Regions from separate parts of the Homo sapiens genome. Here region 2 is linked to region 1. A link means that fine-mapping ties the variant in region 1 to the expression of a gene that starts in the linked region. Tissue or cell type: whole blood. Region 1 holds a variant in brackets; the other region holds the start of a gene. All regions are shown on one strand. Distances are from middle to middle.

Region 1 (2,876 bases):
GGCCAAGGCTAGGACCAGCAGCCTGCATCTAGTCCTGATCCTGGCCCAGACTGTACATTCGTCCTTCTCTTTCTCTGACTTCCCCAACATGTCTGTCAGGTTAACCAGTGGAATGGGAAGTTGCATGGACAGCATTCCATAGGTTGACCCCAAAGGTGTTCACATGTGTGCATGCACACACACACGTGCACACACACATGCACACATGCATCATGCACACACACACACGTGCGTGCGCACACACGCACACACAGAGGGTGCAGGTGCAGTAATCCTGGTGGAGCTGCAGGCAAAGCCCCAGGAAGAAAGACCCCAGGAAGCTCCTGGCAGGCTGGTCTCCATCTCTGCAGAGTTCCTGTCCTCTTGGCCTCTGTCTGGCAGCCCTGAGCTGTTTAGTTGAGTTGCTGGCTGTCTGATTGTCAGTCATCACCTATTGCACTCTTTGGACCTTGACGAGATCTGTCTGGGATCTAGATGAGAGGTTGGGGAGGGGCCTGATCAGGTCCTCACCATTGTTGCTCACACACATATTATCAGCCTCACCTCTGGACTGCTTTCCCTTCCTAATCATGAGGCCCTGGACCACAGTCACACAGTATGATTTGTTAGGAAGCCCTTATGTTCTAATTTCTACAGTCCCTCCCCTTTTCCCTCCTTTCCACCCTCCCTCCCTCCCTCTCTCCCTCCCTCTCTCCCTCCCTTCCTTCCTTCCATCTATGAATCTTATAAAGGAGCTATAGAGCACATAGTAAGCACTTTATATAAACTTAATCTTCACAGCCACCCTAGGTGCATCCTCTGGTTGTCAGCATTTCACACTTGAGGACTGGAGCCCAGAGGGACTGTCCCATGGCCTCACTGAAATGGCTGCAGGGGCCTGATCCTGGGTCTGGGCTGACCTGCTTCTGCTGCCTTGCTGCCTGGGGTCACGTGTGCTCTTCTCTTGCAGGAGACGCTGGGCAGGGTTGCTGAGTCTGGGCTTCCAGCCCTGCTCCTACAGTGCCTTTACCTCTTCTTTGTCTTTCCTCTGGACAAAGATGAGCTTCTTGAGAGTGATCTTCAAGTTCAAAAGATGTTCGTGCAGGTGAGTTCAAGGAGGGCCTCCAATTCCCTGGGTCAAAACCTCACTTCGGGGACAGACTCTCCAATGCTTCCCGTAGATGCTTTTGTCTTTCTCAGCCCTGGTTCCTGAACTCCTCTGTTCTCCCAGAGGGTCTAACCTCCCCCTCCCCTCCCCACCACTGCACAGTCTGCCCCACTAGCAAAATAGTAGCCAAAATTTTCTAAATATAAGCTTTGTACCCACCCCTGTGCCATGGCCTCACATGGGTCACCTCCAGGATTGCTGTCTGCCATCACAGGATGTAAATAGTGTTGTCATCCTGGGTCCATACAAACTGAGGCATGGTGAGTGAGCATG[G/C]GGTCTGGGGTCATAGAAGTCTTGGGTGGGGCTGGGATTGGCACCCTTGAGTAAACTTGAGTTTACATGTTCTCGGTGCCTCTTCCTTCCTCTCAGAAGACATCTCAGGCCTCTAAGCATCAAATGCAATTTCCTTCTGTCATTCCCCATCTTTCCTCTTCTCTTTGACTGACTAACTTCTCACCTCCTTCCCCTGCCCACTTCCGGGCAGTTTCTGCTTTCTCACCTTCTGAGACTCTGAGCTCTCTAGATAACCCTTCCTGCTCCCTGAGCTTGCAGGGGACGGTATGGAGGATCGTGTGGCCCGGGAGGATACAGAGGACTGTGGGGCCCGTCGCTGTGTGTCCAGTGTCTGCAGTGTCTCACACAGAGCAGGTGCCTGTGACTGTTCAGTGAATTCCCAAATGCAGCTGTCCATGGTACACACATGTCCACATTGGCATCCACATTAGACGAATTCCCAAGCCCATTCCTCATTTCCAGAGGGTAGTGCATGAGTTCTGGCAGGTTCCATTAACAGTGGGTTACCCTCTGAGCTGCATTTGTGGAAATGTAGGTGTCATCTGCTTGTATGTAAATCATATTCTAATTGGAGGCCAGGACGCTGCACCAGGCACTTTCACAAATGTTTACTGTGTGGCTTTTAGGTGCCCTGAAGGGAAGTAGTGCAGGGTCTGTCTTCGAGGTCTTCTGGGTATGTGGACAGAATGTGTGCCACAGGGAATAGACCATTCCTGCATTGCTCAAGGGTTTCTGTTACTTCATTTCACAAAAATATACAGAGCCCCTACTGTGCGCAGCTCTATGGCAGACAGATGGTTGCTGCAGCAAGCATAGGGCTTCACTTTGAGAGGTGACAGAAGGATGAAGAAGTCAAACAAGGGGAAAACAATCCAGGAATAAGTGTGTTGTTAGCAATTAAAAAAATAGAGATGGGGCTTTTCTCTGTTGCCCAGGCTGGAGTGCAGTAGTTAGCAATTTTTTAAGTGCTATGTAGGTAAAGCCAAAGGTATACTGGGCAATGATGGTGACAGGCTTTTATTTGTATGAGAGAAATCAGTGGAGTCTATTCTGAGGGCATGGCATTTAACCAGAGAGCTGAGGGTTGTCAGGGTCTGAGGAGGTAGTGTGGCCGGGTGGGGTGGAGGAAGTGGAGAGGAGCAGAGAAATGGCAATGCAAGCCCAGGGACAGGTGAGACCTTGGTCACATGGCCACAGCTACCTGCAAGGGAGGCAGGGAAATGGGACCTACAGCTGTGGTCCATGAAGCCCAGCTTCTCTCTGTATCAGACTAGAAGGGGAAAATGTCTTCCCATGGAAGTAGCTTGTGATATTTGTCACACTGGCAGCAGGTCCTGTTGGACCCCCAAGAGCCCAGGGGGGAGCTGCAGTGGATAAAGTGAGTGAGAAGGCAGTGCTAGTCCATGCAGGATGCTATGGGCCATGCTACGGTGGT
Region 2 (2,948 bases), 39 kb before region 1:
CGAGATCGCGTCACTGCACTCCAGCCTGGGCGACAGCGAGACTCCGTCTCAAAAAAAAAAAACCTCTCTTGCAAATATTATTTGATTTGTTCCTTCTAACAAGGCATTCATTCATTCTGCAAATAAGATGTCAATTATCTCAGTTAAGATAGTGAGAATTTCAACCTTGAGTTTCTAGCTCTGAATTTAGTGCTCTTTACCTGCCTGCTGCTGGCTACCCGGCAAGGTGCTGGGGTGGGTAGAAGGTAGGAGACCTGGGTGCAGGTGGGCCCTCCAGCAGACTTTGCGAGATCCCACTATGACAGACTCTCCGCGCTTCCTCTGGGCATTCACAGGCATGGGGTCCTGGCCTGTCCCATGCTGGCCACCCTTCCTGCCTCTGTGGAAGTTCCTCTGTCTAATCCGCTCTTACCATAGGCCTCTGATTTCAGGCAATATCTTCTTGTAGATTTTATTTATGATTTCATTGGTGACAATGACGAGGGGTTTTCATCATATACAACAAACACTTCACTGCAAATTCTCTAAGGTTTTCTCTTTCCCTTGGCTGGCACTGCATGTATCCTTTCAATTTCTCTTTTCTTTTCTTTTTTTTCTTTTTTTTTTTTTTGAGACGGAGCTTCGCTCTTGCTGTCCAGACTGGAGTGCAGCTGGATAGATCTCCTATTTTGGCTGCTGTCTACTGACAAGTTTGCACTGGTGGAGGTTGAGGTTTTGTGACAAATGTTATTTTCCTCTTTAAACCAATCTTGGAGCTTTACTCCATGTCATAACAAGTGATGTTGTTGCTGCCTCTCAGTCAGTCATGCATGGTCCACTGGTTTTGTGAGCTAGAGACAAGCGATGAGCTGCACTGAGGATCAAGGATCAGGCATTAGCGCTAACAAGTGCCCTTGCTCTTTGGCAAAATTCTCCTTTTACAGAGCACAAGCAGGATTGTGTGTGAATGGACATGCTTGTTTGTACTGTGGAGATGACGTTATGGATAGGTGACATGGATAATTCAGCCTAGTTTATATACTCAGAGGAATGAGAATTTGGAGTCTGAGTTTCAGAGACTTCCATTCTATGGTTTTAGATGTCCTCTCATCCTTGCCTCAGTGTTGGCCGCAGGAGGACTCCCCTCATTGGTGGTTCAAGTTCTATCTGAGGATGGGGGAGGAAGAAATCCAAGTGGGCAACTCTGAGCTTGGTGGGGTGAGGGCTGCCCAACCCATGCCATGTCCAGGGGTGCACTTAAACACACCTCTGATTAGATTCACCTAACACCATCATTGTTCTCATTTTGCCAGAGGCCCAGAGAGGAGAGGTGTGCACCAGTGGTCACACGGCTAGTGAAGAGGGGACACAGAATCCAGACCTACTCTTCTAGGGCTGGGCTGTACTTTCCATTTTGTCCTTGGCCCCAACCAGCACCGCTTGACCACGGAGGCTGCACAGCCAGCCCCAAGGGGCCTTGCTGCAGAACCCAAGTCACCCGCCAGAACTCCAGCAGCTCCGTGGTCGGCTGGAGAGTGGGCAGAGTCAGGCATCTGCCGGCTCTCCACTTCTGCTTTCTCCAGGAAATGAGCAGAGACCCAGCTCCAGTGATTCAGAGTGAAACGGCGCTGAGGACTGACGATGTGGGGCCGGGTCCTCTTCCCCCGAGCCTGAGGGGCTGCAGCTGGGGATAGGGGGCCCATGCCTTCTGATGTCTACAGGCGCTGACGGCCACCCCTCCAGGTAGGCCACCTTGCTCTTGGCCCAGCCAGGCCAGCCTAGAGGTGGGCATATGGGCGCCGCCTGTCAGCGTGGGGCCTACTGGCTGCCTCCTGGGAGGCTGACTATGGGGCACATGTGACCCAGTGCCTGGTTTGGGTTTGTGAATGTGGGAGAGGAGGTGAGCTGGGGAGCAGGAAGTGTGTGTGGCGTGGGGGGCCCATGTGGTCAGGGCCACTCCAGGGCCTGGGTCTGCCTGAGTGTGTGTCACTGCTGAAGTTTGGGAGTCAGGCTGGGCTCCAGCAGCACTCCTCGACCTCTGACGGTAGGTCAAGTCCTTTCTCGGGGTCCTGCTATGAAGGGAACCCTGGGAAGGGCTGACACGGGCTTTCCTGGTTGTCGAGGGGGCGGAGAGAGCAGGCCGACAGGACAGTGAGGCTCGCCCTCCAAGCTCCCTCATAGGCCTCTGAGGAGTGCAGAGTTGGAGGGCCATTTCCAACGGGCCTCAGAGGGAGCTGGTCTATCCCGGCCCTGTCATTACTCCACTGGGTTCTGGTAAGTAGGTGCCTCCCTGGGCTCACTTCCCTCATCTGAATTATTACAGCAAACCATTGAAACGCCTGCATTTTCTGCCTAAGCAGGGCCACCTGCTCAGTAAGGACTGATTCTTCTTTTCCCCTGAAATGAAACTTCTAGAACACTAAACCGATCCTTTGTCCCAACTCATCTAAAGTGTGGGGGGGCTGGTTTGATAACTAAGGGCTCTATGCATTACCCTTTCCATGGAGCACACTAATTTTAATATGAGTTTATGTATAGTCATTCATTTAGTTATTTAACAAATAGGTATTGAGAAACCACGCCCTGCCAGGCTCTGGTCAAAGCGGACAGGGGTCTACGGTGCTCAGCAGGTGGGAGAATAGCAGGTAGGGTGGGGGTCTTGGGAGGGTGGGGATGGCTCTAGTCTTCTGAGAGGGGACCTGTGAGGGAGGCCGAGTCCTGTGGGTTTCTGAGAAGTGTTCTTGATAAGGGTCTGGAGGAGGAGACCTCGTGGAGGTTGGTGTGGCAGAGCCGGGTAAGGGGCATGCCTGGGGTTCTGGCCAGAGAGGTAGGGAACAGGGTCAGGTCAGGGAGGCCCTTCCTGTCTGTCCATCCTGAGCACATGGGCTATTCTTTCATGAACTTGGAAAGATTTTCTGTGTTGAAAGAAAAGAAAATTTCGGCCAGGCGCAGTGGTTCACGCCTGTAAT

Evidence for each region.
Region 2: it holds the start of WDFY4, and the variant in region 1 is fine-mapped to the expression of WDFY4 in whole blood (TOPMed, PIP above 0.99). The same link has a PIP of 0.9 or more in blood mononuclear cells.

Annotation. Positions count from the first base shown.
Region 1 is chr10:48,722,484-48,725,359 of GRCh38, forward strand. It overlaps WDFY4 (WDFY family member 4), which reads left to right. Exons shown (of 62, transcript NM_001394531.1): 5 at 950-1,084. Among named protein-coding and RNA genes, the nearest start is that of WDFY4, 39 kb to the left of the region's middle. The variant G/C (reference allele first, on the strand shown) is at 1,421.
Region 2 is chr10:48,683,280-48,686,227 of GRCh38, forward strand. It overlaps WDFY4 (WDFY family member 4), which reads left to right and starts at 1,594. Exons shown (of 62, transcript NM_001394531.1): 1 at 1,594-1,722. RefSeq lists enhancers at 516-595, 1,526-1,825, 1,844-2,384 and a silencer at 816-865.